Linked DNA regions of Homo sapiens. The protein of the gene in region 2 interacts with the protein of the main gene of each other region in a biochemical or structural test. Each region holds a gene or a part of one and is shown on either strand. Other genes may lie near its edges.

Region 1 (16,503 bases), on a different chromosome or scaffold from region 2:
GTGTTTCTACAAAGGAATAAATTAGGAATAAGCTATAATTACATTATTATTATAAAGCTGTTGTGAAAATTAAATAAGATAATGTATATAAAGAGATTAGGCCTGGGTGAGGTGGCTCATACCTATAATCCCAGCACTGTGGGAGGCCCAGGTGGGAGGATCACTTGAAGTCAGGAGTTTGAGACCAGCCTGGCCAACATGGTGAAACCCTATCTCTACTAAAAATACAAAAATTAGCTGGGCATGGTGGTGCACACCTGTAATTCCAGCTACTCAGGAGGCTGAGGCAGGAGAATCGCTTGAACCCAGGAGGTGGAGGTTGCAGTGAGCCGAGATCGGGCCACCGCACTCCAGCATGGGCAACAGAGCGAGACTCTCAAAAAAAAAGAGAGATTAGAATTCAGTAGGCTATGTGCAGCGTTAGTGATTTCTATTATAATAATGCTATTATATATGTTACATGTAACCCAACAGTTTTCAATTTGTGCTTCCTGAGGCCCTAGAAATCCTGTAAAAATGCCATGATAGGTAAAGGGCTTCGGATCCTCCTACCTCCCTTTTCAGCCAAAGTGCTGAATCTCACTGATGTGCTGAAAGGCCTTTCAAACAAATCCTTGACCTATTTTACGTAACAGGTTTAAGTGTAAGATTTTCAGTTGAAAAAGGGGTTCTGGGGCTAGTAAAAGTTTGAAAACTATGTTTAAAATACAAGCTCCCAGCCAGGCGCAGTGGCTCATGCCTGTAATCCCAGCACTTTGGGAGGCTGAGGTGGGCAGATCACAAGGTCAGGAATTCAAGACCAGCCTGGCCAATATGGTGAAATCCCATCTGTACTAAAAAACACAAAAATTAGCCAGGCATGGTGGTGGGCACCTGTAGTCCCAGCTACTCGGGAGGCTGAGGCAGGAGAATCGCTTGAACCCGGGAGGTGGAGGTCCCGGGAGGTGGAGGTTGCAGTGAGCCGAGTTTACACCACTGCACTCTAGCCTAGGAGACAGAGTGAGACTCTGTCTCCAAAAAAAAAAAAAAAAAAAAGGGGGGGCTCCCCTCTGTTACAAGAATTCACATTCCATTGATGACAAAAGCCTCACTATCAGTCACTTTCCTCATAAGGGCCAATGGCAGAATTTTATTTACTCATTAAAGTAATCTTTTCCTCTAACTCCAGATTCTGCCTCAAATTCCTTTCTAATGTGGTACTTCCAGATGAAAACAACTTGCCCTATAATATCTTTGCTAAATATTAGGCATTTGCATTCACTTAACTAAAACAGTATGTAAAATACATTAATAAGAAGCTGAAAACTGTTTAAGGAATTACATTAATAAAGGGATGTAAAGCTAGGTATAATTTTAAAAGTTATCCCTTTAAGTGATAACCTCTGACAAAAAAACTAGAGCTGAACACCTAATAAAAAAGAAAAATAGGTAAATCATTTGGATCTCATACTCTAGTCTTTTTAAAAACGCCGGAGGACTGCTTATGCCCAGGAGGTTGTGGCTGCAGTGAGCTTTGATTACACCATCACACTCCAGCCTGGGCGACAGTGCAAGACTCTGTCTCGGAAAAAAAAGTTTCTAGTTAAATATTCTAAAATAAGATAAACATTATCTCATTAGAAAATAAAAACAAACAAAAACTAAAAAATCTATCTCATTAGCAGGAGATGTTTCACCTTAACAGAAATCATAAGAGTTAAAAGCCTACTTTGTCTTAGGACCATATCTATTAAAAATAGAACATTCTTAAGCTATTATGTAAAAACCAGTATGAATCCACGGGTGTTCCACATTTCAAACTTACATATTCTATTATGAATAAATGAAAATACACTGAACATACTTTCTGCTTTTCAGGAACATCCTCAAGTGCTATTTTTCTCTTATTTTGAGTGCCATCTCCAGTAGAAGATTTATCTTTTGGAACATCCTCAGTTTCTCTTTTTCTTTTCTTTGAATTGCCTTCAGCATCACCACAATCTTTTTCCTCTGGGACAATTTCAGGATCAAGTTTTCTCTTCTTGGATGGAGTGTCTTTCCCACAACTAGAACTTTCCTTTACAAGATCATCTTCAAACTCTTTTCTCTTTCTTGCTATGTCTACTTGCCTACAGACAGAAGTCTTTTCAGAAAGCCCAGTCCCAGAAGCTGTTGTGTTTTCATTAATATTGAATGAAGACTCTGTTTCAGAATTCACTGACGCTTTTGCCTGTTCAAGAGACATCTTTTCATATTCTTCTGCTTTTGCAGAATTTGCCATTTATGATTACTTGAATTGATGGTAAAACTTCATGAACCAACACTAGAATAGGAAAAAAATTGGTATTACTTGTAAACACTAAGACTTTAAAACAATTTTTTTTTTTTTTGAGACGGAGTTTCACTCTTGTCGCCCAGGCTGGAGTGCAATGGCATGATCTCGGCTCACTGCAAGCTCCGCCTCTGGGGTTCAAGTGATTCTCCCGCCTCAGCCTCCCCAGTAGCTGGGATTACAGGCACCTGCCACCACGCCTGGCTAATTTTTTGTATGTTTAGCTGAGACGCGATTTCCCCACGTTGGGCAGGCTGGTCTCTAACTCCTGACCCCAGGTGATCCGCCTGCCTTGGCCTCCCAAAGTGCTGGGATTACAGGCGTAAGCCACTGCGCCTGGCCTAAAATAATTTTAACTAGAATTTGATCAACTAGGAGTTTAAAAAAATCTCATTGTAGAGAGCATATTAAAAAATGTTAACTGATACTATGTATGAATTTCTGAATATGGCAGTACTAATTATAATCCCCCCAAAATTCTATAATCTTATTCATAAAAGTCACTGTTGGCATTAAAGCTGACAAATGAAGTGGCGATACACATGCACTAGTTCCATTTTGGTTCTGATCCTTACTCTATAACCCTGGTTCCCAAACTGCATGGTTGGCACCATAACAAACAGGCACCACAGAACCTAATGTGGAAGATATCACAGAAACTACCAGCTTTAAGTACAGCACAGTTCCAGCTGAATAGATTACACTACATACCTTTCAATGACTTTGTGAAGCTGAGATTTTGGTATCACAGAAAATCAAGGTGAAACAGGAAATGAGGTTGGTGGTGCCTATCTGATTTCGAGGCTTGAAGTTGTACAGTACCCAATAGGTTCACACATCCTGTTAGTAAGGGATTGTGATTAATCAAGAATAAAACAGAAACATTACCTTTCCCCCCAATTTATGTGTGTTAATTTTTTAAACAGACATAAAGTTGTTAGACCATAAATACTTTTAAATTCTTTGGGGTAAACTACTTAATAAATGGAACTGTTATATTTCTTTTGGCCTATGGACACTAAGGGCATCAAGAACAGAAAAAGTTTGGGATTCTACAGCAAGAATTCTGAAATCGTATTTCATAATGGGTGTTCCAATTAGGTAGAAAGTGAAGAGAGTAGAAATGGCTTTAGACAAGTTTCAGGACTCAGCCTGCAGTTTGATGACCATTAAGTCTCTTTCAAATATGTTTTTAGACCTACATTAAGATGGGAAAGCGAGAGAAATAACTGAACTATCTATTGGGCAAGAATTATGGTGGTTCATTTATTAAGCCATTCAACAAATTTAGTGACCTCCTACTATGGAGAAGCTCAATGTAAATCATGTTTTCAAGATGTTTATAGCTTATATACCACTATTAAAATGTTAAGCTTTCGCTGGGCACAGTGGCTCACACCTGTAATCCCACCACTTTGGGGGAACGAGGTGGGCAGACTGCTTGAGCTCTGGAGTTCGAGACCAGGTTGGGCAACATGGCAAAATCCCGTCTCTACAAAAAATAGCTGGGCATGGTGGCACATGCCTTAGTCCCAGTTACTCAGCAGGCTGAAGTAGGAGGATCACCTGAGCCCAGGAGGTCCAGGCTGCAGTGAGCCATGATTGTGCCACTGTACTCCAGCCTAGACAACAAAGTGAGACCCCACTTAAAAAAAAAAAGCTTTTTCATGAAGGAAGTGTTTGTGCTTAAAAAAAAAAGTAAATAAATAAAAAGCCTTTTGGATAATGAAAAAGAATAAGAAATCAAGTTGCTTAAAGGAATGGGTAACAAGTCACTCACTATGAATGGGTAAGGGTTTCAATGGTTATTAGTTTTCATGACCCACCATTTGAGGTAACAAAATACCAAGAAGTACCAAATAGAACTGAATCAGAGAACAACAACAACAAATCAGAAAAGTGATTTTCAGAACAAATACTTAAAATGATTATCTAGAAAAACTGGATACCAACTTATCAAATTCCTATTTCTCCTCCTCTGCCATTGATTTCCTAATGGAAATTGGCTTTAAATTCAAATAAAGAAATGTGACTTATCTTTAGCTATATTTATTACCTAAAATTAATATTGAGATTTAAGCATGAATTTTACTTATGTCACTTTCATGATATCACAGATGTGACATAATAAAAACATAATTAGGTCAGAAGAAATGACACAGCATTCCAGATGACCACAAAAATAAGTAAGAACGTTTAAAACCAAGCATCATGTTTACAGCCAACTTGTTCTCAACAAAGGTGCCAAGAACGTACATAGTGAAAAGACAGTCTCTTCAAAAAACGGTGCTGGGAAATCTAGACCACTCTCTCTCACCATATGCAAAAATCAAATCAAAATGGACTGAAAAATTTAATACCCAAAAGTATGAAACTACTTGAAGAAAACATTGTGGAAATGCTTCAAGACACTGGTCTGGGCAAAGATTTTTGTGGTAAGACCTCAAAAGCACAGGCAACAAAAGCAAAAACAGACAAATGGGATTACATCAAGCTAAAAAACTTCTGCACAGCAAAGGAAACAAGAGTGAAGAGATAACCTAGAGAATGGGAGAAAATATCTGCAAAACCATTCATCTGACGGGATTCACAACCGGAATACAGAAGAAACTCAACTCAATAGCAAAAAAAAAGAAGCAATCCTACTACAAATGGGCAAAAGATCTGAATAGACATTTCTTAAAAGACACACAAATGGCCAACAGGTATATACGTAAAAAATGCTCAATATCAGTAATATCAGGGAAATGCAAGTCAAAACCACAATGAGATACCATCTCATCTCGGTTAAAACGGCTTTTATCAAAAAGATTTTTAAAAAATGGATGCTGAGGCCGTCACGGTGGCTCACACCTGTAATCCCAGCACTTTGGGAGGTGGAGGTGGGCAGATCACTTGAGGTCAGGAGTTCTAGACCAGCCTGGCCAACATAGTGAAACCCCGTCTCTACCAAAAACACAAAAATCAGCCGGGCATGGTGATGTGCGCCTGTAATCCCAGCTACTCGGGAGGCTGAGGCATGAGAATCGCTTGAACCCGGGAGGTGGAGGTTGCAGTGAGCTGAGATCAAGCCACTGCACTCCGGCCTGGGCGACAGAGCAAGGCTCCGTCACACACACACACACACACACACACAAAAAAAAAAAAAAAAAAAAAAAAAAAAAAAGATGCTGATGAGGATGCAGGATGCAGAAAAGGGGGAACACTTGTACACTGTTAGGGAGAACGTAAATTAGCACAGCCACTAATTTACATACTGGGAAAAGTATGATGGAGGTTCTTCAAAAAACAAAAAATAGAACTAGTGCTATTGAGATGAGTTTCTTCTATATTCTGGTTGTTAATCCCCTGTCCGATGAACAGTTTTGCAAATCTGGGTACAGATCCAAAAGAAGGGAAATCAGTATATCTAAGAAATATCTGCAGTCTCAAGTTTATTCACAATAGTCAAGATATGGAATCAACCTAAGCGTTCATCAACAGATGAATAAAGATAATGTAGCATATATACACAATGGAATATTAGTCATTAAAAAGAATGAAATCCTGTCATTTGCAACAACATGGATGAAACCGGATGTCATTATGTTAACTGAAATAAGCCAGGCACATGAAGACAATATCATGTTGTTACTCATGTGGGAGCTAAAAATGTGGACCTGATGGAGGTAAAGAGTGGATTGGTGGTTACCACAGACTGGGAAGGGTAGCAGGAAGAGGAGCGGGATGAAGAAGAGAAATTGGTTAATGGGTACAAAAAACCCCAGAAGAAATAAAATCTAGTGCCTGATAGTACAGTGGGGTGGACACAGTTAACAATAACTTATTGTGTAGTTCAAAATAGCTAAAAGAAAAATTGGAATGTTCCCAACATAAAGATAAATGTTTGAGATGACAAATATCCCAATTGCCCTGATTTAGTCGTTACACATTGTATGCATGTATCAAAGTATCACCTGCACCTGCAAATATGTGCAACTTCTATGTATCAATTTAACAAATTGGGGGAAAAAAAACCCAAACCAAACTCAAAGTGGAATAATGAAAACACTCCATAGGGAAGAGAGCTGTCCCTCAGAATCTTCAAGAAACCTTCGAAAGGTGGTCGACTGACATGGAGATGGACACGCGATAAATAACCACACGAACATTTCGACCCGGCTTTCCAGTCACACCTCCGAAGCAAGCTATGTCTCTGCGTCATTTCAGCTCCTCAGGGTACGAGCGAGCAGGCCGCCAGGGCCGCCGGGATAAAGCCCAAGCGGGATAAGCTCTAAGTCCCGACCCGCCCGCTTGACCCTCTACCACGGGGCCCGAGAGGACGCACAGAGGCGAGAAGGGACTTCTCCAGCCAAGTTCACCCCCTCCGTCATTAGCGCGGCCTGTTACTCAACCTCTGGTTCAGGTTTCCGAAGCGCCGCTGAAGACAAACCTGCGGACCCCACGCCCCTCCCCAGCACGGCCCTGGGGCGCGAGCTGGAGCAGCTCTTCGAGCTGCTTCTCCCACCCGGGCTCGCCCAGTCTGGAGGAGGAACAGCGCCCGCCCACCCCAAGGAGTTCCCATTTTCCTTGGGACTGAGGACACAAGGCAATAGACCCACGCGTTGGGTAGTGAAGCACAGGGCTAATGCGAAGTGAGCCCATGTCAGGGGTGGGAGTGCCAGTTCCACCCCTCCACGGCGGCCGAGGGACAAACACAAAGAAAGGAAGGGCCGGAGTTCCAGCCGTCACACTCACCAGCACAGCCAAACGCGATTCTGTTTGCGGAAACGGCGGCCCGCGCCACGCGTGTCTGCTTACGTCACTTCCGGAGGTGCGAGAGTCACGTGGAGACGGTCAGGCGAGAGTGCCGCGACGCACGTCCTCCGCGCCGGAACTACGAGTCCCGACGTGCCGCGCGCGGCATGCAGAAGCTTCACTGAGCGGGCACTGGAGGTCGCGAGCACGTTGCTAGTGGGCGCGGCTGGCGGGGCCGGGGGCGGCAGGGGGCTAGCGTCCGGCTGAGCCCGGCGGGTTCCTGCACGCGGACCCACGCTTTGTCGGGCTGCTCTGCTGAGTGACACCGCCGTGGCATCCGAGGAGCTGTGGTCCAGCCTGCGCGGCGGGAAGCGGCGGCGGCGGCTCCAGCGTCCTAAGAGGTAGCATGGGCCCAGGCCTCTGTGGGGCAGCGGGAGGGGTCTAGAGGGCACCTTCAACCCTGGGCGTGTGTCCGGGAGCTGACTCGCGGCGCGAACCCGGCAACTGCTCCGCGTGCGCCGCTCTTCGGGCTGTGGCAGTGTACGACTGCCAGACGGGTCGTCCACACTCGCCGACCCCACAGACCCCGGCGGCCGAGAGAGGTCCCCCCGCCCTTCCGGGTCGAGCCAGTGTCCTGGCAAATCTTGCTTTGGGACTGTTTTTCAGCCTCCTTTGCTGTAACCCTTCACCGTGTTCTCCCCCCTTCTTCCGAAGCCAGTTGAAGAGGGGCCCGGAAGCGCCCGCGTTCGGAATGGTTTTTAAAATTAGCAATTTCTTATTAGGGACTGGCAGACTGGTCCTTACCGCCGTGTTTGGGAAGCCACAAGAGGCCATTCTTACCTGTTAGATTCTGAGAAAAGGGACCGCCTATACCTCTTCTTGACAAATACCTAAGGATGCATTAGTCTGCGTTGGCTGAACTTGGCATGGTGTGGTTTGGGGGAGACAACACACTTTTTTTGGCCATCACCCCAGATTTCTACTGGGGAGTGAAAGCGCCTACTGTACTGAAACTCGAAAGCTCCATAGTTGAGGACTTTCAACCTGAGATCAGGGTCAAAACTACCTGTGGATAGATTATTGAAGCGTGTGCATATTAACGTCGTGCGTCAAGTCCCCACCTTCCAAGGTTGTAAAACTGATCAGATTTACAATCCGTCTTGAATTACTCTTTACCAAAATTGATCCATTTAAAACAGCTTTGAAAATGTGCTTTACCAGCCTTCCTTCTTGTCAGTAGGCACAGGTATATTAATGAATAGACCTGGCTTTGGGGAAGGCAGCATTTGCAGCGTTGTGCTTTCCAATCTAATCACTTCTAAATTGTGGGCATTAGCCCATTTGAGGTTACAAACTTTGAACCAAGAATGAGGCCTATTTTTCACAAATAAGGATGACCCATCAATTTCTGATGACTGCTTGTATTTGTTATTATATGAAATGAGGTAAGTTGAGAATTAATCTCATTACATGAATATTGACAACTGCAAAAGTGTAGGTCTTACAGATCGAATGCATTATAGGCATATACAAGCATTAGAACCAGGCAATTACATTCCCTGTTCCTGATGCTTAAGTTTCTTGAGATAATTGCTGTTGTAATTTTACAGAAAATGAGTGTAATTTTGACTTTTAAAAACATGTTTTAATGTTTTTAAACACCGGGTGCAGTGGCTCACTTCTGTAATCCCAGCCGTTGGGAGGCCGAGGCGGTTGGATCACGAGGTCAGGAGTTTGAGACCAGCCTGGCCAACATGGTGAAACCCCGTCTCTACTAAAAATACAAAAATTAGCCAGGCGTGGTGGCGCGTGCCTGTAATCCCAGCTACTCAGGAGGCTGAGGCAGGAGAATCGCTTAAACCCGGAAGGCGGAGGTTGCAGTGAGCCGAGATTGCGCCGTTGCACTCTAGCCTGGGCGACAGAGCGAGACTGTCTCAAAAAAAACTAAACAAAACAAAAAAAGTTATTAGATTAAAAGCCTCTTAACTATGTGTTTATGAAAACTCCACGATGATGGGATATATAGAGATTACATTTTTCAGTTTTTATAAAACTTAACTAGAAGTTGTGTAAATTCATTTGAGAATAGAGGGGAAGGATTCTTGAAAGCAGTTAATGTAAGTAAATGAGCCAGATAAAAATGATTTTAAAGTTACCATTGGTGTTATTTTTCCCTCATTATTGCCTGAGTAATCTCTGGTTTTCTGGACATTAAAATAATAATAGCTAATACTCGAGTACCTTTTAGGTGCCAAGGTTAGTGCTTTATTCATTTGCACTCGTTTAATTCTAACCGAACCCAGTGGTATAGTTATGAGTGTTTGTTTTACAGATGAGGGTTAAGTAACTTGGCCAAGATCATGCAGCTTGTTAAGTAGTGGGATCAAGATTTGGACCCAGGCAGTCTGGCTGATTGACCAGACTCTGCTAATAATGAAACAGTGCTGGCTAGAAGATCATACTCAGAACTGGACGTTGCCTAGCAAATAGTAGATTTTTCAGAAAGTGTTTTGATACTTCTTAATGCCTGGGTTATGATGTCCCGAGAGAAAATAGTTAGATAAGGATGTTATCTTGCTGGAATGTGAGCTCCACCAAGACAAGGAAAGGACCTGCAGGATTTATTTCAACCCATTTGTAAGAAAGTGAGAGTACTTCTCTCAGAGGTATAATTTTAAAGTGTGATTTCTGTTGTAGAGTTGAAGATCATATTTTTGAAACATAGAGATTGTTTTAAAAATGTAGAAACAATGTTATAGTTTCCTAAGATAGTGTTCTGTGAAGAGAGGTGGTTCATGGAAGCTTTGTTCCTCCAAATAGTTTTGGATGAAGGACTTTTCCTCTGTTCCACTCAGGAAAGTGTTCCTACTGAAATTTCATTGTCTTTCTGGAACAAATAAAATATTATTGTTTAAAAGGTTTTTCCTTCAGTTGAAAATAAGATTTTGTTGAGTAATACTGTGTGTGATGATTAGTTTTATTATGTCAGCTTAGCTAGGCTATAATACCTAGTTATTTAATCAGATACTAGTTTGGTTGATGCTATGATGGTATTCTGAAGACGTGGTTAACATCTATAATCAGTTGACCTAAACTAAAGGATATTACCCTAAATAATGTGGGTGGACCTCATTCAATCAATTGAAGGCTAAAAAAGCCAAAACTGAAGTGTCCTGAAGAAGACAGTATTTTCCTCAAGACTGCAGCATCAATTCCTGCCTAAGTTTCCTGTCTGTAGATCTACCCTACACATTTTGAAGTTGCTATCCCCTACAGTTGTGTGAGCCAGTTCCTTAAAATACCAATATCTCTGTATCTGTCTATATGTAGATGAAGATATTTATGTTTTTATCTACATCTATATATTTTTTCCTATCAGTTCTGTATCTCTGTAGAGCCCTGACTGATTCAAATTTGGGTGCTGAGAGTGCTTCTAGTGAGCAGAATCTTAAGGATGAGTTTTCTGAATTGATTATAGTGTTTCTGGAATTGGTTTTCCAAACTGATCAGATTCAAAGGCAGTAATGAGTATTCCCTGTAGAAAAGAGGGCACTGATAGTCCCTGGTGTGATATGGCAACAAAGATATGCAAAAGATCACTATTAGATACTCCCACTCATGCTTATAGACAAGATTCAGAATGATCAGGTATTTGATACCTTAGAACATTTTAATCGAATTAATGAGTACAATAAGATAGGCTGGTTGCTTTTAACTGTACTGGGTAAAGTGAGAAAAGAAAAGGATGATCCCAGCTACTCAGGAGGCTGAGGCAGGAGAATCGCTTGAACCCAGGAGGCGGAGGTTGCAGTGAGCCGAGATTGCACCACTGCACTCCAACCTGAGTGACAGAGTGAGACTGTCTCAAAAAAAAAAAAAAGAAAGGAAAGAAAAGGGGAGCTTAAGGCTTCAAATTCCCGATTGAAGCTCCACATAAGTGACCTGAAAAGTTTCTGTGTCTGCCCTAAAGAAACCCGTATCTCTTGTAGCTACAGAGCTGAGGTTGGTGAAAACCAAATCCAGAGTCTTATCCTGTAGGTGGCTGAATTACAGTGCTAACTGAATTCCCTTCTCACCTTGGTCTGCTATTAAAATGAGGGCATTGATTGGGAAGGAATGGGATCTGCACATTTGGAATAGGGCCATATGGGAACATCCTGATGAAGCTGGGGATGTTAAACTCCTAAATTTGACTCACTCTTTTTTGCCAGTAGAAGCAGTTCTTCCACCTCTGAGGAGGTTAACTCTGCTTTGCCTGAAGAACCTGTAATGACCTCCCTTGAGGTAGTTACCTTGCAAGACATTGCCGGTTTTCCTCAGGAATCCGTGAAGAGCTCTGGGGTTGCTTTTCTCTTCAGGTCAGAGATTGCAGTGGGAGCTGTTGCCACTGACTGGGGGTCCTTAGCTGCAGCAGGGATGGTTGGATCTAGGATGGCAGGGGCTATGTGATCACCAAAGAGTAAGTAGGTGTGTTGCCATCATGGGGGACAGCGGAGTCAAAGCAACAATCTGAACAGCCTGACTTGGGGGTCCTAATTGGGTAGGTGGTCATGGTGTCCCTAGAAGAGAACTCGTTGGGCAGTCTACTGAATTCTGACTTGATCTCTATAAGCAGAAGAGTTCTAGGTCAAGTGAATGGAAGCTTTACTTTAATTACCAAAGAAAGAGTCATGGTCCCTCAATCAGTTCCCAGATTTGAGTCATTTTACAGACTCAGAACCCCCTGACTGAGGGGAGGCTGGATCCTTTTGAGGAAGGACCCCATTGCGCTGCTAAGAATTTATACCGTTAATTTTTTTCTCAGGTTTCCCAAAGGGACCTATGGCTTATCAGGGTAAGTGTGCACTGGAGAAGAGGAAATAATTAGACTTCTCACAGATTACTGAACTCTTAAGTCTGAACTGACACTAATTCCAGGACACTCAAAGTGTCATTTTGGCCCGCCATTCAGAGTAGGGACTTGTTGAGGTTAGGTGGTCAATGGAAGTTTAACCCAGGTTCTCCTCACAGTGGGTCCCCATATTCATCCTATGGTTACTTTGCCAGTTCCAGGATGCATAACTGGTATAGACATACTCAGCAACTGGCAGAATCCCCACACTGGTTCCCCGACTTGTGGAGTGAGGGCGATCGTGGTAGGAAAGGCCAAGTAGAAGCCACTAGAGCTGCCTCTTCCTGGAATAATAGTAAGCCAAAAGCAATACCGCATTCCAGGAGGAATTGCAGAGATGAGTGCACTTAAGGATGCAGGGGTGATGATTCCTGACATATTCGCATTCAACCCTCCTGTTTGGCCTGTGCAGAAAACAGATTGATCTTGGAAAATGACAGTGGATTATCATAAACTTAACTGAGTAGTGACTAATTGCAGCTGCTGTTCCAGATGTCATTTCATTACTTGAGAACCTATCCCCTAGTAACTGGCATGCAGTTATTGATCTGCTGAGTGCTTTGTCTTAGTATCTGTTAGTAAAGATCACCAAAAGCAGTTTTCTTTCAACTAACAAAGCCAAAAATACACCTTCACTGTCCTACCTCGGGAATGTCAACTTTCCAACACTATGTCATAACAAGATCTCTGTGATCTTGTTATGAGTTGAATTGTGTCTTCTAAAAATTTATGTATTGGATTCCTAGCCCTTAGTACCTCAGGGTATGACCTTATTTGGGAATAGGGTAGTTAAAAATGTAATTAGATAAGATGAGGTCATACTGGAGTAGGCTGGGCCCCTAATCCAACACAACTGGTGTCCTTATAAACAGGAGGAATTTGAACACAGACATTCACACAGGGAGAATGCCATATGAAACTGAAGTAGAGGAACACCAAGAAATGTCACACATTTCCAGCAAACCATCAGGAGCAAGGGGGTAGGCATGAAACAGATTCTTCTTCACCCCCTTTGAAGGAACAAACCCTACTGACACCTTGATCTTGGACTTCTAACCCCAGAGCTGGAGACAGTACATTTCTGTTTTGTAAGCTCCTCAGTTTGTGGTTCTCTATTACAGCAGCTGTAGCAAACAAATAGAGACCCTGATTGTGCTTCCCTTCCACAAAACATCATACTGGCCCATCACATTGATGACATTATGCTGATTGGACCTGGTGGGCAAGAAGAAACAACTACTCTAGACTTACTGGTATGACATTTGCATGTCAGAGGGTGGGAAATCCAACAAATATTCAGGGGCCTTCCACCTGTGAAATTTCTAGGGGTCCACTGGAGTAGTGTAGGGCATGTTCCCACCTATAACAAAAAGAGAAGCAAGGTTTAGTGGGCCTCTTTGGATTTTGGAGATGACAAATTCCTCATTTGGGTGTGCTACTTCAGGTTGTTTACTGAGTGACCTAAAATACTGCTAGTTTTGAGTGGATCCCAGAACAAAAGGCGCCTCTACAACAGGTACAGGCTGCTGTGCAAACTGCTCTGCCACTCAGGCCATATGACCCAGCAGATCTTCTGGTGCTTGAAATGTCAGTGGCAGATTGAAATGCTGTTAGGAACCTTTTGCAGGCCCTATAGGAGATACAGTGTAGAACCTTAGGATTTTGGAGCAAAGCCTTTCCATCCTTTGCAGGTAACTGCTCTTTTAAGAAACAGCTTTTGGGCTTGCTACTGGGCTTAATAGAAACTCTACGCTTAACCGTGGGCCACCAAGTTATGCAACCTGACTAGAAAAATGACTAGAATATTTCAGCAGTTAAGAGCACAAGCAGATGGCATGTGTTCAAATCCTGGTTATGTTATATTTACTAAGCATGTCATCCTTGAGTAAGTGGCCAAACTTTGTGTTTTGATTTCCTCATGGAGCGATTTTATAGAATAAATGAGATGATACAGTGCTTAGCACAGAACCTGCTAATTTTTAGCTTCTCTTAACACAACTGAAACTGCTACTGCAATGTCTTGTGAAGTCATTAGTCCATGCCTTTAAATGTGATTGTAGAATTTTTTTGCCTTGGTACAGCAGAAAAAATAGAGTGATTTTTTTTTTTTTTAATTCATGTAAACCAGAGCAGAAGTTTGAAATAGTGAACAGTCTTGTAGGCATTATGTGCTTTCAGGTTCTGAGTTTATTACTTCTGAGAATTAACCATAGTAGCAGTGGTCTATGACCTCTGTGGGTGAAAGGGTGGCTGGGCTTTAAGCATGTGCAGCAGTGGGCAAAGAATGGAGGTGAGGGAAGAGGCATCAGACATTAGGAAGGGATCCTCCCGGAGAAGTGGAGGTGGGTGGTTAGATTTTGTGGGTGCCAATGGCAAGATGAGTCCTATTAGAAAGTCTCATTGATAAGAAAAAATTGTTTTCAAGGCAGACTTAAAAATTAGGGCTTCCCCATTTTTACTTACTTCTTCTACATTGCCTTTGTAACTTCTTGGACGTGATAAATTGAATTAAACGTGGTATTTTATTTGGATTTCTTGATTTTTAATGTAAGCATGAATTATAGTAACTCTTCCTTGCTATCTGAAATACTGCAATTCTTGTTCTAGTTAAGCTGCATTGTAATTTGACTCATTTCTTAAAATTAGAGGAATTAGATAAACAGTGATGGGTTTGCAATGTAGTGTTTGCCAAATGAATGTCATATATAATGTTAAGAAAAATTTTATTTGTGTGGCACACTTTATAAAATAAAGCAGACCTATGTCAAGTTCTAAATGCAAATTTTTATTTTACTTTTCTTGCCATCTTCATCACTGTAAATGCAAGTTTTTAAAAAGATATTTTAAAATTGGACCCAGAATACAAGAGCTCTTTATTGCAACAATGGCTTCTGGTACTCTGATGATCAAATGACATTTTCTGAAATATGCTTGATACAGTAAACACTGACAAAACTAGTTAACCCCACAGAGAAGGTTACTAGTATTTTTCACCAAAGCCAAGCTGAAACAGGTTCTATTGCGATTTACTTGGTGTAAAATATATGTATAATTTCTCATATGTCTTTTTTTGGTTTAACAAACATAGTCCTTATTCATCAAGTAAATTCCTATTGCTAAGCATGTTTTAGTTAACTAGTAACAATAAATTTATGTTAAAACTGATTTTCATGATAGAAGATAGAAATGAAATTTATATAGTTTGGCTCTCAATCCTTTATTTTCAGGGAAAAGACACAATTTATACATATGAGCAATTTGTGAAGATGTGGGAAATTCACTAGATTAGCAGTTCTTTTTTCTTTTTTTTTTGGCCTTTAATCAGCTATGTGATCAGGAACAAGTTATGAACTATTACATGTCCTTGCATTCTTTATCTGTAAACATAAAGGATGATACTAAGGGGCCTCTCAGTTTCCTTCCAACTCTTAACATTCTGTAGTTCTAATGCAGACAACTATGACTAAACCTAAGGTTGCTGCTTTTATACAGTTGTACTCAGGTTCTGTGTGGCCTTCCATTTTTGTAGTCCCTGTAACAAAGACTTTGAGAAGGTAAAAATAATCCTTACTCATGCAGTGGGAAGGTTTCTTAAGGAGAGTAGGCTTGTATTTTCTGTTGCTGTGTAACAAATTACCCCCACATTTAGCAACTTAAAACAACACAGGTTTATTGTCTCACAGTTTTTCTGGGTCAGGAGTATGGGCACATCTTAGCTGGTTTGCTGCTTAGCATCTCAAAGTGTCAAGCAGGCTGCATTCTCATCTGGAGGTTCAACTGTGGAAGAATCTGTTTGCAAACTCATTGAGGTTGTAGGCAGAGTTCATCTTTTGTGCCTATATGAGTGAGGGCGCTGTCTTCTTCCTGTTGACTGGTGGCTTCCCTCAGGGACTAGAGGCTGTTCCCCGTATGCGGCCCTGTCCGTAGGCAGTTCATCATACGGTACCTTGTTTCCTTGAGGCCAGCAGAAAACTCTGTCTCCAGTCTGCTAAGATGAAGTCCTTTCCATCTTTTCTACCATTTAGTCTACTATACCATAAGTCTTTTCTCGAGCCTGTTAGACTGCTTTTTAAACCTGACATTCTGGTGCATTGGGCCCTTGCAGTTTTCATGCAAGTTGATTAACCTTTATGTTACCAAATGACTCACTGGAGTATGCTTTTTGCTCTCTAATCCATAATTCAAAATGTATCTTCCTCTTATTCACTTCTCTGTACTTTATTTTTTTGGCAGACTTTTGATAGTAGATTTCTAAACATTCTGTATTTTTCCTTTCTTTTCACAGTCTGTCATGCAGCTGACCAACGTAAGTCCAAAGTGCTTTAGAATTCGAGTAATTCTGCAAACCCTGCTTTGTAGTTAGCGGTGCAGTGGTGAAGTTCAAAACTTAGACTTGGGCTGGGCACAGTGGGTCACACCTGTAATCCCAGCACTTTGGGAGGCTAGGGTGGGAAGATCACTTGAGCCCAGGAGTTCGAGACTAGCCTGGGCAACAGAGTGACACTCTGTCTCTAAAAAACAAACAAAGAACTTAGACTTGAATGTAGGTGACAGGTGGCACTAA
Region 2 (15,643 bases):
GGGAGGCTGAGGCAGGAGAATCACTTGAACCTAGGAGGCAGAGGTTGCAGTGAGCCAAGATGGCATCACTGCACTCCAGCCTGGGTGACAGAGCGAGACTCTGTCTCAAAAAAAAAAAAAAAAAAAAAAAAGCTGGTTCTTTGAAAATATAAACACAATTGATAGACCATTAGCAAGATTAACCAAGAAAAGAAGAAGATTCAAGTAAGTTCAACTAGAAACAAAACAGGAGATATTACAACCGATACAACAAAAATATAAAAGATCATTCAATAGTACTATGAATACTTTATATGCACAAACTAGAAAATCTAGAGGAGATGGATAAATTCCTGGAAATATACAACCCTCCTAGATTAAATCAGGAAGAAAGAGAAACTCTGAACAGACTAATAACAAGTAGCAAGACTGAAACAGTCATAAAAAAACTGCCAAGAAAAAAGTCCAAGAAAACAAAAATAAATTAATTAAATTAAAATTTAAAAATTTTAAGTGCAGGACCAGATGGATTCACAGCTGAATTCTACCAGTCAAAGAAGAATTGCTACCAATCTTACTGAAACTATTCCAAAAGACAGAGAAAGGGAATCCTCCCTAAATCATTCTATGAAGCCAGTATCACTCTAATACCAAAACCAGGAAACAATATAACAATAAAGAAAACTAGAGACCAATATCCCTGATGAACATAGATGCAAAAATCCTCAACAAAATGCCAGCTAACCAAATCCAAAAGCATATCAAAAAGGTAATACACCATGATCAAGTGAGTTTCATACCAGAGATGCAGAGATGGTTTACCATACACAAGTCAATAAATGTTGGCCAGGCGTGGTGGCTCTTGCCTGTAATCCCAGCACTTCAGGAGGCCGAGGTGGGTGAATCATTTGAGGTCAGGAGTTCAAGACCAGCCTGGCCAACGTGGTGAAACCCCGCTTCTATTAAAAATACAAAAATTAGCCAGACGTGGTGGCAGGTAGTCCCAGCTACTCAGGAGGCTGAGGCAGGAGAATCACTTGAACCCGGGAGGCAGAGGTTGCAATGAGCTGAGATGGTGCCACCGCACTCCAGACTGGGTGACAGAGCAAGACTCTGTCTCAAAAATAACTAAATAAAATAAAAATAAATGTGATACGTCACATAAACAGAATTAAAAACAAAAATCACATGATCATCTCAATAGATACAGAAAAAGTATTTGACAAAATCCAGTATCCCTTCATGATTAAAACCTTCAGCAAAACTGGCACAGAAGGGACGTACCTCAAGGTAATAGAGCCATACCTCAACATAATAAAAGGCATCTATGACAAACACATGACCAACACTATACTGAATGGGGAAAGGTTGAAAGCATTCCCCCTGGGAACTGGAACAAGACAAGGATGCTACTTTCACCACTTCTATTTAACATAGTACTGGAAGTCCTCACCAGAGCAATCAGGCAAGAGAAAGAAATAAAGGGCATCCAAATTGGTAAAGAGGAAGTCACACTGTCACTGTTCACTGATGATATGATTGTATACATAGGAAACCCTAAAGACTCATCCAAAAAGCTCCCAAATCTGACAAATGAATTCTTTAAAGTTTCAGGATACAAAATCAACGTACACAAATCAGTAGCACTGCTATGCACCAACAATGGCCAAGCTGAGAATCAAATCAAGAACTCAATCCCTTTTACAACAGCTGCATAAAAAAAATAATAACAATAGAATACTTAGGAATATACCTAACCAAGGAGGTGAAAGATCTCTAAAAGGAAAACTACAAAACACTACTGAAATAAATCACAGATGACACAAACAAATGGAAACACATCCCATGCTCATAGATGGGTATAATCAATACTATGAAAATGATCATACTGCCAAAAGCAATCTTTAGATTCAATGCAATTCCCATCAAAGTACCATCATCATTCTTCACAGAACCAGAAAAAGCAATCCTAAAATTCATTGAACCAAAAAAGAGCCCAAATAGCCAAGGTAAGCAAACAAAAAAGAACAAATGTAAAGGCATCACATTACCCAACTTCAAATTATACTACAAGACTATAGTAACCAAAACAGCATAGTACTGGTATAAAAATAGGCACACAGACCCATGGAACAGAATAGAGAACCCAGAAAGAAAGCCAAACACTTACAGCCAACTGATCTTTGACAAAGCAAACAAAAGCATAAAGTGGGGAAAGGACACCCTATTCAACAAATGGTCCTGGGATAACTAACAAGCTACGCGTAGAAGAATGAAACTCATCTCTCACCTTATACAAAGTCAACTGGAGATGGATCAACTCAAACTTAAGTAAGATCTGAAACCATAAAAATTCTAGAAGATAACATTGGAAAAAACTCTTCTAGACATTGACTTAGGCAGAGTTCGTGACCAAGAACCCAAAAGCAAATGCAACAAAAACAAAAATAAATAGATGGAACCTAATTAAACTAAAAAGCTTCTGCACAGCAAAAGAAATAATCAGCAGAGTAAACAGACAACCCACAGAGTGGGAGAAAATCTTCGCAAACTATGCATCTGACAAAGAACTAATATCCAGAATCTACAAGGAACTGAAACAAATGAGCAAGAAAAAAACAAATAATCCCATCAAAAAGTGGACAAAGGACATGAACAGACAAAAGAAGATATACAGTTGGCCAAGAAGCATATGAAAAATGTTCAACATCACTATCAAGGAAATGCAAATTAAAACTACAATGAGATACCACCTTACTCCTGCAAGAATGGCCATAATTAAAATATCAAAAAATATTAGATGTTGGCATGAATGTGGGGAAAAGGTAACACTTTTACACTGCTGGTGGGAATGTAAATTATTACAACCACTAGGGAAAACAGTATGGTGATTCCTTGAAGAACTAGAAGAACTACCATTTGATCCAGCAATCCCACTACTGGGTATCTACCCAGAAGAAAATAAGTCATTATCTGAAAAAGCCACTTGCACAGGCATGTTTACAGCAGCACAATTTGCAATTGCAAAAATGTGGAACCAGCTTAAATGCCCAAGAACCAATGAGTGGATAAAGAAAATGTGATATGTATATATACCATGGAATACTACTCAGCCATAAAAAGGAATGAAATAATGGCATTCATGGCAACCTAGATGGAGTTGGACCCCATCATTCTAAGTGAAGTAACTCAGGAATGGAAACCCAAATATCCTGTGTTCTCACTTGTAAGTGGGAGCTAAGCTATGAGAATGCAAAGACATAACAATGATATAATGGACTTTGGGTACTCAGGGGGAAGTGTGGAGAGGGGGGATGAGGGATAAAAGACTACTACAGTGTACACTCCTTGAGTGACAGGTGCACCAAAATCTCAGAAATCATCACTGAAGTACTTATCCATGTAACCAAAAACCACCTGTCCCCCAAAAACTACTGAAATAACATAAAAATGTTTTTTAAAAAGATCTTTACTAAAGATCTCTATTTGAGCAATCAGGATCTTAATATCTCCTCCAACCTGCTTCTCTCTCAGTAAGCCCTAATAATATCAACTATCTCATGTGCATAAGCCAGACATTTGAGACTAAATTTTGACCCTCTTTCCCTCATTCTAAATACGACATCAAGTTCTGTCCATTTTCCCTTCTTAATATCTCTCAAATTAGCCTTCTACTCTTCATCTGTCACTTTTAAACTATCACTATTGTCTTTCACCTGGACTACAACAAGTTCCTAATTAGTCTCTCCATTTCCACTCTTTTCTCCATCAATTCATTAAACACAGAAAAGTCAAAGTAAGCTTTTAACTTGGATTCAAATAATCTCATCTCGATGCTGAAAAAAAAAACTGCAATTGTATGCCACTGAAAATTTAAAGCATATAAATATTAGGATACCTTATCACACCCTACTTGCCTGTATGATCAGGCTATTCTCCAACCTCTTAACCTCACTTACATCTTCCAGAACAAAGACACTTTTTCAGTCTATTATCTCTCCCATCATCATCCTATCCTAACAGAAACTTTCAATAACACCCCCTGCCAACTATTTATCTAGAAAACTTCTATTTACTGAAGATAATTCATGTATGACCTTCTCTGGGAAGTCTCACCTGATCTCCTTCTTCCTTCCCATCTCTTCTTCCTCAACCTCAAAGAATTAGGTTTATTACCTCTGATTCCCATCATATACCACAATAGAGTCATTGCTACATTTTTTACAACAGAACTGTGCTTAAAATGGATGGTTTGCTACTCCCATGAGACTCTGCTTTTTAAGGGTAATATATCTTAGCCATCTCCCTAGCACCCAGGACTAGCACAAAGTAGACATTTAAATATTTGCTAAATAAAATGACTTCAAAATCACCATCACTATCACCATCACACTATCCTGAGTACCTGGGACCACAAGTATGTGCCAATGCACCTGGCTGTGTCTCATATTTACATTCCCACAGTTCCTAGTAAGCTCTTTACATAGCAGATATGAAATAATTTTATGTTGAATGATATATCTTTAAGAAACTAGGGAGGGCTGGGTGCGGTAGCTCACACCTGTAATGCCAACACTTTGGGAGGCCAAGGCAGGCGGATCACCCGAGGTCAGCAGTTGGAGACCAGCCTGGCCAACATGGTGAAACCCCATCTCTACTAAAAATACAAAAAAGAAAAGAAAAGAAAAGAAAAAAAGGAAAAAGGAAAAGAAATTATAAGTTTGTTTTCTTCCAAGTATTCACCTGAAATCTATTAACTCAGAAGGAGGAAAAAACAGTTCTTCAGAAAATAAAGCTTGGCCCTGTCTCCAAGAGCTCTCTCTCATTGCAAGTCTGGTTTCATCAGAGAAAGTGACTTCACAGAGAAACAAATTATATGTAGTTAGTACCATTTTCTTTCTGATTCAGGAAAATTATGAACTTCTAGTACTAGTAAAGTGAATCCTAACATTTACAACATATAAGTTTGAGCAGCCATAACATTTTCCTCAATATGCAAAATATCAAAGAAATTACTGTGATGGTTAATACTGAGTGTCAACTCGATTGGATTGAAGGATGCAAAATATTGATCCTGGGTGTAGAGGGTGTTGCAAAGGAGATTAACATTTGAATCAGTGGGCTGGGAAAAGCAAACCCACCCTTAATCTGGGTGGGCACCATCTAATCAGCTGCCAGCATGGCTAGAATATAAAGCAGGCAGAAAAATGTGAAAAGACTTGACCGGCTTAGCCTCCCAGCCTACATCTTTGTCCTGTGGTGGACGCTTCCTGCCCTCAAACACTGGATTCCAAGTTCTTCCATTTTGGGACTCAGACTGACTCTCCTTGCTCCTCAGTTTGCTGACAACCTATTGTGGGACCTTGTGATCGTGTGAGTTAACAGTTAATAAACTCCCCTTTACGTCTGTATGTGTGTGTGTGTATGTATGTGTGTGTGTGTATATATATATATGTACATATATTTCCTATTAGTTCTGTCCCTCTAGAGAACCCTTACTAATAAATTACACGATAAGTACAAATTACTTTTTTTTTTTTTTGAGATGGAGTCTCACTCTGTCACCCATGCTGGAGTGCAGTGGTGCAATCTCAGCTCACTGCAACCTCCGTCTCCTGGGTTCAAGTGATTCCCCTGCCTCGGCCTCCCGAGTAGCTGGGATTACAGGCACATACCACCACGCCATCATAGCTTTTTGGCTATTCATATAACTTATTTTGTGAAGTGTCCAAATTTTTTGCTAGTTTTTAAGTCCTTTGAATTTCTTCTGTATAATACATTGATGGTGGGACTATCAAGTGTTACCACTTTGGAAAAGAGGTTGGCAGTTTCTTAAAATTCTTAAAACATACACCTACCATATGATGCAGCCATTCCTCTCCTAGAGACTTACACAAGAGAAATGAAAGTATATGTCCACACAAAGAATTGTACATGAATGTTCACAGCAGGTTTATTTGTAATAGCTAAAAACTGGAAATAACCCAAATGACCATCAATAGATGAACAGGTAAACAAATTGTGGTATACCCAGAACAATAAACTACTACTCTGCAATAAAAAAGGAATAAACTATTGATACATGCATAATCTGGATGAGTATCAAATTAATTATGCTGAGTGAAAAAAGCCACACACACTTCCTTCCACCCCAAGAAGAGTACTCACTATATGTTTCCATTTATTTAAAAATTTCTAGAAAATGCAAACCAATCTATAATTACAGAAAGCAGATCAGTGGCTGCCAGGCGAAGGAGGGATTTAAAAAGGGGCAAGAGGAAACTTTGAGGGGTTTCATGGTTGTTTCCTAGGAAAGAGATATATTTGTGTATATACAGTCAAAATTTATCAAACTGTACGCTTTAAAGCTTATTGTATTCAAGCTCAATAAAGATGAAAAAAACTACAAGAAAAATAATTAAAAAAAACAAAAACCCGGCCAAGCGGGGTGGCTCTCGCCTATAATCCCAACACTTTGGGAGGCCGAAGTGGGAGCATCGCTTGAGTCCACGAGTTCAAGACCAGCCTGGGCAACACAGTGAAACCCTGTCTCCACAAAAAATAAACAAAAAAATTATGGCCAGGCACAGTGGCTCACGGCTGTAATCCCAGCACTTTGGGAGGCCGAGGCGGGCGGATCACTTGAGGCCAGGCGTTGGAGACCAGCCTGGTCAACACGATGAAACCCTGTCTCTACTAAAAACAAAAATTAGCCGGGTGTGGTGGCACGCGCCTGTAATCCCAGCTACTTGGGAGGCTGAGGCAGTGAGCCGAGATCACGCCACTGCACTCCAGCCTGGACGACAGAGAGAGACTATGTCTCAAATATATACATTATAAATATATATATACTTTAATAAATAAAAAAATTAGCCGGGTGCGGTGGCAGGAGCATGTAGTCCCAGCTACTTGGGAGGCTGAGGTGGGAGGATCCCCAGCCCGAGCAAGAGACCCTGTCTCACAAGAAAATAAAAATAAAAAACTAACAAAAACACCCTCCAGATTCCCAGTCTCAATGTGACCCCATTTCACCGCTGGGAACCGCCCCTTCCCTCCTTAACCCTCCTCCATCTCAATACTGATATTCATCCCTTCTTTCGAGGGGAAGGTTGAACCCTAACAGGTTCGCAAACTACTAAGACTCAAAGTACGCCCACTGTATTCCTGGATCCTCACCTCCTGCCACCAACCTCCTGTCTACCTTCACATTCGCACAGTTAGCCTTGCAGGAATAGTAACAAGTGCCCCCCATCCGCCGACCATCCCCTCCCGTTCATGTTCCCATTCATCCACGAAGCGTAATCCGACGGAGCATATCCCGCTCCTGAAATACCACTAATGGGCACAGAACCACCAAAAGCTGAGCTCCTCAGTCGGCCCACCCCCGGGCACGTTGGAGTGTGGGGATTCGAACGCCCCCCAGTCCAGGTTACCTGCCACCGGCTGGCCGCGCCGGGGACAGTTCAGCCACCGCGGCGGGATCTTGTTGTGAGCCATGTCTTGGGGCTGCGCAGAGCTGCCCTCCCTCACCAACGTTCACCGCGCCTTTGGAGCCGCCTCCCCGTGGTCCGGTGCACACCGGGGTCCGAGACACCCGAATCGCAGCCGTAATCTGAATTCCAACCTCTCCGATCCGGGTAACGTCAGGGGCGGCGCGCCACTTTCATTCAGGATCAACTCCACAGCTCCAGGAGAACCCACAATGCACCGCAACTTCCGCCCCCGAAAGCCCCGCCCCCTTTCCGAGGTCAGAGGGAAAGAAGAGGAAGCTCAGCGGAAGGATAGCAAAGAGTTAAGGACGCGACGAATGGGAGGAGCGGGCCTTCTCTCGCCCCACTCGGCACCGCCCCGCCCCGCCCCGTCCCGCTCCACGGACGCGCCCGGACGCTACTGGTTCGCCTTTGCGCATGTGCAATTGCCCTCGTACCGAACTCCGCAGGACGAAGCGTGTATTTTTTTCCCATCCAGACAACCTAGAGAAACCCAAAAAAGAGGGAAGCCAAGCGCCTTTCCATGCGTAGATTGCCCGCCACTTCCGTTAAGGCATCTATTTTACTGATGAAAAGAGGCCTTCTGAGCGTTACCACAGCTCAAGCTTGGCGTCCCAGCCGGATCTAGGTTTGATTTGCAATTAGGGAAAGTTGTTCAAGGGAACAAGTCTTAGGAGAATTCTAAGGACATGAGATTGGAGTACCAGAAATGGGGAATTTTTCTTTTGGTGAGTACTTACGAGGATCTATGAAGCTTCTGAAATTAATTCCAGAACACTTAGAGTTTTGTTTGTACATTTCTGGATCAAAGTTTCAAAGCATACTGGGGAGTTTGAGAGGGTCCATGTCTCCAAAAAAAGTTACTAATTAATGTGGTATAATTGACAAAGGTAGGAATTGATCAGTGGAGAACCTCTTCGTGGCGTTGTTCTCCTTGGCCTACCAAATAAACAGTGCCTTTTATTTTCCCTTCGAGTTAAGCAGAGGTGCTTGAAAAATTTTTATAAATGCCGTCCTTTAACGAGCCTTTCCTTTGTTACCAGATTAAAGTGTTAAATATAAAGCTGGATGATGGCGAATCAATTATAATGTAGTTTGGCTTTAAACACCAATGCTATATTGGAACTGCAAGAACGTAAGGCTGCAGGGAATACATTTTTAAAGCGTCGGTGGGGAACTTTCTGGGACGCTCAACCCCCTGAATGCCTGGACCCCCTCAGTAAGAGTCCCATCAATAGAGGCAGTCCAACAGCAATCTCTCTGAGGCAGCCTGAGTTAGGTCACACTTCTGGTCTGTCCTGCTGTTGCATCTGCTCAGAACTGTTAGTGAAGGTGTAAACTCCTCCCCTGACAGAACAAGATAATACCCAGTTTCCTTTAAGGCCATCAGTCTACCCAAATAATCTCCGATGAATTCCCTTTTCTGCTGATAGAGTGTGTACCATGCCCAAAGTGGTAAAAACCTTCCATCCCCAGACCCCCTCCAAGGATGGGAAAGGTGAGCCTGATCCTGGAAGAGTATCTTACCTTCCCCTTCTGGGGATGACTCCCCTTGGTGACTCCCCTTCCCACACACGCTATACCCAGTAGCTCAGTCCTAGGCACACAGAAGCTTCATACCACTGGCGAGCAACTGTTATTGGCTGTAAGGCAGCAATGTGCACTGGATTTTTATTCTGCTATCCAGTTATGCCCTCTCCATACTCATTGCCACAGAATTGGGAGGACCCTGTGGCTACCTTTTGTCCACAATAGAGAGTAGAGTAGGAGAGTGGCATCCCGATGAGCAGGCAGTTTCTCTCTGCCTGTCAGGAATGCCTTGCCTGATGTGTGTTTCTGCCTATATTGCTCCTAGTCCCAAGTTTCTACTACTCTGTGAGAAGAAAAATAGATGCTCACAGACAGACCAACATGATTCCTCCCCCGCTTCCTGGAACCCCTGACACCCTCCCAGATATGTCTTGATCTCCTCTTTATCAGATGTAGATTCTCTTCATTGGTGAGTCTTTCATCAAACATCCATTTTGCCCATAAGGAAGAGTGTGTACATGTAAAAAATAAGATTGAACGTTCTCTTTTGGCAAAAGAGAGAGATCTTATCTGTCTTCCCTTTTCCTAGGACTTTTCCTTGAGAAAAACCTATATTTATTAATCCTTCCTCTTCACTTTGATATGTAGATAAATCTTTTGTTTTTGCAGACAGGGTCTCACTTTCTCACCCAGGCTAGAGTGCAGTGGGCATGATCAGGGCAGCCTTACTGGAGCCTCAACCTCCCAAGCTCAAGCAATCCTCTCACCTCAGCCCCCAAGGAGCTGGGACTACAGGTGCAGGCCCCCACACCCCACTAACTTTTTTATACTTTTTTCGTCTGGAACTCCTGCAAGCAGCCCTCCCACCTCAGCCTCCCAAAGTGCTGGTAAGACAGCCAGGTGGGAAGGATTCCTTGGCAGAATCTCCTTTTGACCTGAGCACTGGGAGGAATGCACCCTGTGGTGGAGCCTTGGGAAATTTGCGCCATTTGCAGTGGGGAGGAGCCTGGCCCCTCCTTTTCCTAGGTGGAACCTGGGATTCAGTCTACCAGGCAGGAAGCACTCTGGCTTTGGGGAGAGTCTCTGTTTCCCTTTTTTTCTTTTTGCCCAATAAATTCCATTCTCACCCTTCAAGGCATCTGTGAGCCTAATATTTCATGGCCATGTGACCAGGACCCAGCTCTTAGCTGAACTAAGGAGAAAGTCGTACAACAGCTTTGGCACCCAATGTGGGGCTTGAGAAGCGGTTGAGTGACACGGGGACTCAAAACTTTTCACTGTCATTTCTAAGCCTTTTCATGCGTGGACTTCTGAGGGTAGGGAAACCATGCCCCCACTCCCATCGCTCCCTGGGGTCAGGGGCCTTTCCATGGCCTTTGCCTTCGTTTTTTGGGAAGGATAGGCAAGTCGCAGCTCCTCATTCCCTCTCCCCTCCCAGCTGGGGCTGGGGAATGCCACATGTCCACAGCATCTTCCCCTTCCCTGGCCAAGGCTCAACTCCATCTGATAAGCTTCTCTCCCTGGTAGAGGAACCATTTGCCTAAGAATAAAAGGTTTATTCCCCCAGGCATCCTTTTTTCTTCACCCCATCAACAGTTAACTTTTAAACCAGATGTTTTTTTTCTTTTTCACTAGGCTAGGAATGATAAGGATCCCTGTTTATATTCTCCTTAAAGTTTGGTTGTGAAAAAGGATCTTATGGGGACTGGTTTTCTTCTGCCTGTCTGTGTAGCTATATATATGTTGTGTACATGATGTCTATGAAAAGAGCTCAAAGGCCAGGCACGGTGGCTCACACCTGTAATCCCAGCACATTGGGAGGCTGAGTCAGGCAGATCACCTGAGGTCGAGAGTTCAAGACCAGCCTGACCAACTTGGAGAAACCCCATCTCTACTAAAAATACAGAATTAGCCAGGCATGGTGGCACATGCCTGTAATCCCAGCTACTTGGGAGGCTGAGGCAGGAGAATCACTTAAACCTGGGAGGTGGAGATTGCACTCCAGCGTGGGCAGCAGGAGCAAAACTCCATCTCAAAAAAAAAAAAAAAAAAGGAGCTCTAAGGCCAGGTGTGGTGGCTCATGCCTGTAATCCCAGCACTTTGGGAGGCCAAGGCAGGCAGATCATTTGAGAGTCAAGAGATTGAGACCAGCTTGGCCAACATGGTGAAACCCTGTCTCTACTAAAAATACAAAAATTAGCCAGGTGTGGTGACGTGCCTGTAGTCCCAGCTATTTGGGAGGCTGAGGCAGGAGAATCCCTTGAACCCAGGAGGCAGAGGTTGCATTGAGCTGAGATTGTACCACTGCACTCCAGCCTGGCCAACAGAACAAGACTCTGTCTCAAAAAAAAAAAAAAAAAAAAAAAAAAACTCTAATTGGCCTAAAGGAAGACAAGTGCTTAGATCATATATTTTTTAAAGGGAAGGTAAAAGATGTGGTACCTTTCAGTTCATGTGACTTTAATCTTTGAGAAATAAAAACAGCCTTAAAGATTATTGGTAAAAAACAGATGTCATCAAAATGTAAATAGGTGGACTAAATTATGCAGGTTAGGTACTAGTCTTGCTAAATGTTTTAATGTTATAAACTGCTTTTTGAGTTTTGAGAACTATCTGACTTGCTGGCTTCACAATTGATAAGGCCTGGGGACATATGGAACTAACCATGTCATTAATTATGCTAGAAGGAGTCAAAACTTCGCTGCACCTGGCACACAATTAAAACAACTTACCAGGTTTTACATTAAAGTTAAAATTGCTAGGAGTTACCATTATAATGTATAATTGAAACTACTGAAAATAGATTTACATGCAAGGTGTGTAAGAACAGTAAAATGTGTTTTTTAGTAAAAGGTAATGGAAGGCATGGAAATGTAAATTTTTGCCTAGGGTTAGGGAATTGTTTTAAATTAGGTAAGATAAAGCTAAAGGTTTAAACAAGTTCTGGAAGGTTAAAATTAATCTTGCAAAAGAAATGCTGTGTGTGAACATTGGCTAAATTCAAAAGTAAATTGAGCATTGAAATAAAAGCACAACAAAGTTTTCTTAAGGCACTAATCTGCACTTTAGCAAAATTTGTAAAGGGTTATAAAAAGTTTTTGCTTCTTTAAAATTTCTGAGTAATTTTGGCAAAATAAATAATTTATGGAAATCTGGAATTCTATTTCATAACATCAAGTGTTTTAAACCACTAACATATTTAACAGGCTTCCCAAAAATCAAACTTCAGTTTCAAAATTGTCTTTCCTGACACCTGGCTTTTCAGAGGCTCCAGAAGGACCCTAGAGTGTCCAGAAGAGAAATGTAAACAGGATTAGTTGACATGTTTAGGTATGTGGGATTGCCAAAATAATGTTCAGTTTTCTTTTTTTCTTTTCTTTTTTTTTTTTTTTTTTTTTTGAGACAGAGTCTCACTCTGTAACCAGGCTGGAGTGCAGTGACACGATCTCAGCTTACTGCAACCTCCGCCTCCTAGGTTCAAGTGATTTTCCTGCCTCAGCCTCCCAAGTAGCTGAGATTATAGGCACCCACCACCATGCCCAGCTAATTTTTTTGTATTTTAGTAGAGACAGAGTTTTGCCATTTTGGCCAGGCTGGTCTTGAACTCCTGACCTCAGGCGATCTACCCTCCTCAGCCTCCCAAAGTGCTGGGATTACAGGCATGAGCCACTGCACCCGGCCCAGTTTTCTTTAGGTTATATTATTGTGAATAATACTAATATATGTTCCAAAATTGTATGGGATTTCTAAAATTCTAATGTCTGAGATAACCAAACTTCTTTGTCAATTGTGTTTCTAACTGTAACTACCCTGGACATTTTGTTATTCACAGACAATTGTTGTCTTGTTTTAATCCTTTTCAAAAGATGATTTATAATGAGCTATAGAACGTTAACAGGTGCTCTCAAATACCAATTTCTGATGACTTTGGAGATTGTAACAAAAGGAAAAATGTACAAGACTCACAAAGAGCTGAAATGTTCATGAATATCAAGCAAATCAAGAACTAAATTGACTGAACTCAGAAAGCTGAAGCAATCTTTTTGACTTTTGCTTAGAATATTGCTGACCCTTATTTTTCAGAGTCAAGGAAACTTACTTTGAACTATTTACACCCTTTAATAATTGAGTAAGGTATACTCCTGTGAACAAAATTTGGAGTATCGGGGGAACCCACCCCCAGTATTTCAATGAAGGTGCTTTCTATTTTCCCTAAGTGTCGGCCAGTCTGAGAAATAAAGAGAAAGAGTACAAAGAGAGGAATTTTACAGCTGGGCCACCAGGGGCGACATCACATACCGGTAGGTCCATGATGCCCACCTGAGCCGCAAAACCAGCAGGTTTTTATTAAGGACTTCAAAAGGGGAGGGGGTGTATGAACAGGGAGTAGGTCACAAAGATCACATGCTTCAAAGGGCAAAAAGGAGAACAAAGATCATATGCTTCTAGGCCAATAAATATCACGAGGCAAAGGGCAAAGCAAAGACCACAAGGCAAAGGGCAAAATCAAAAACTCCTGATAAGGTTCTATGTTCAGCTGTGCACATATTGTCTTGATAAATATCTTAAACAACAGAAAACAGGATTCAAGAGCAGAGAACCAGTCTGACCTCAAATTTACCAGGGCAGGGTTTCCCAATCCTAGTAAGCCTGAGGGTACTGCAGGAGACCAGGGCATATTTTAGTCCTTATCTCAACTGCATAAGACAGACACTCCCAGAGCAGCTGTTTATAGACTTCTCCCACCAGGAATGTATTCCTTTCCCAGGTTCTTAATTATTAATATTCCTTGCTAGGAAAAGAATTCAGCGATATCTTCCCTACTTGCTTGTCCGTTTATAGGCTCTCTGCAAGAAGAAAAATATGGCTCTATTCTGCCCTACCCAGCAGGCAGTCAGACCTTATGGTGTCTTCCCTTGTTCCCTGAAAATCACTGTTATTCTGTTCTTTTTCAAGGTGTACTGATTTCATATTGTTCAAACACACATTTTACAATCAATTTGTACAGTTTGACACAATAGTGGTCTTGAAGTGACGTACATTCTCAGCTTATGAAGATAATAGGAATAAGAGACTAAAGTAAGACAGGCATAAGAAATTATAAGAGTTTTATTAGGGAAGTGATAAATGTCCATATTAAAATGAAATCTTCACAGTTTATGTTCAGAGATTGAAGTAAAGACAGGCATAAGAAATTATAAAAGTATTAATTTTGGGAACCGATATATGTCCATATTAAAATGAAATCTTCACAATTTATGTTCCTGTACTGCGGCTCCAGCCAGTCCCTCTGTTCGGGGTCCCTGACTTCCCGCAACATTGGAGCATATTTGTCTCTCTGCCTGGCTTCTCCAGAATTTGGAAACTATCTGTGAGTATTCTTAACTTATGGCAATATAGTTGTTTGCATCAGCGCAGTAAGAATCCATTTTTCTTTTGCAACAGGACACAGTTGGAGAAACTGGTTATTCTACCAAGGCTTTGACTGAAGGGTATGCTTCTCTTTCAGGAGTCAGTCTCAACTTGCAGAGCCAATAAAAGCCCCTTGGGGAAAAAAAAATGGCCTCATATCCTTGTCTACGCAGTCCCTGTACAGGGTTCCTGACCTGTGGTCAGTAAAGAATGTCACTTTCTAACAGGCCTAGGGGCTCCAAGTTTATCTTAGGACTTTAAAAGGAGAGGATCACTCAACTCACAGGTATTTAAGGATACAAACCCAAGGCTGGGCTCAGCTTTAAAAGGCCTTCTCTGAGATTCCTTGTAAAACAGATTTCTATCAAAGCCAATCCAAAAGGCCTGTATAGGAATAATTACTCTTGCTGCACTTTATGCAGGCCAAGTATAAGACTAAAGTCTATTTTGCAAACAACTCAGTCCTACCATAATTTTTTTTAACAAAAATGAGGACTGGAGAGAGAGAAATTATGCTTCAAAACTTATCATACATTTGTCATTAAATTATAAACTCATTAGTTGTCTGTAAGTTTTTGCCTACATTTTAAACTAACCCTGCTTGTTCCTGTGAACCAACCAGCAATCTCTGGCTGTAGCCCAGAAAGAACAAGAGGGATGGGTAATGTAAAAATCCAGACCAATATTCTAGTTCTGACCAATTATCCTTCAAATCCTGCCAGGTGATGGGAATAAATAGGATGCCCATCACTCAGAGGTTTCCTTTTTGGGAAAGTAAGACCAAGGGAGCTAACCAAAGTCAAGCACGATGTGCCCAAATCCTAAGCAAGCATAACTATAGCCACCAGTTATCTGGGTGTGTCACAAGACATCCCTTTCTCTCCCTTGTTGGAGGAGGACTCAGTTCCACAGTTTCACCTTAGCATTTGGCTTATGAGAAGGAGTTCATGCAGTCCCCACCCTAGACACATTTTTGTCCCAAACTCAATTCCAAGCTTTGCGTTAAAGCCCTAGGAAAGAAAACTGGATCTGAGGGATGCAGAGGCAGACGATAACAGAAGTTTAAAGGCACAGCACAGGTGAGCATGGCTGATTCCTGCCGATTAAGCCAAGCCTCCTGTTTCATGGATAAAGATCATGCTAGTATCCATGGCATAAATAAGGTCTAGGGAACTCCAGACTACTGACAGTAGGTGGGATAGAAACAGTGGTGAGATCAGATAATTCCTATT

Evidence for each region.
Region 1: the proteins of RNGTT (region 2) and RNMT form a complex in vitro, tested with the Homo sapiens proteins (one study listed by BioGRID).

What each region holds. Positions count from the first base shown.
Region 1 is NC_000018.10:13,717,275-13,733,777, reverse strand, and holds the start of RNMT (mRNA cap guanine-N(7) methyltransferase), read right to left. Parts: upstream 7,106-16,503; 5' UTR 7,049-7,105; exon of another isoform or gene 6,913-7,048; intron 3,152-6,912; 5' UTR 3,023-3,151; intron 2,303-3,022; 5' UTR 2,261-2,302; coding exon 1,844-2,260; intron 1-1,843. UniProt on the Homo sapiens protein: Catalytic subunit of the mRNA-capping methyltransferase RNMT:RAMAC complex that methylates the N7 position of the added guanosine to the 5'-cap structure of mRNAs. Binds RNA containing 5'-terminal GpppC.
Region 2 is NC_000006.12:88,955,934-88,971,576, forward strand, and holds the start of RNGTT (mRNA-capping enzyme), read right to left. Parts: upstream 7,686-15,643; 5' UTR 7,477-7,685; coding exon 7,413-7,476; intron 1-7,412.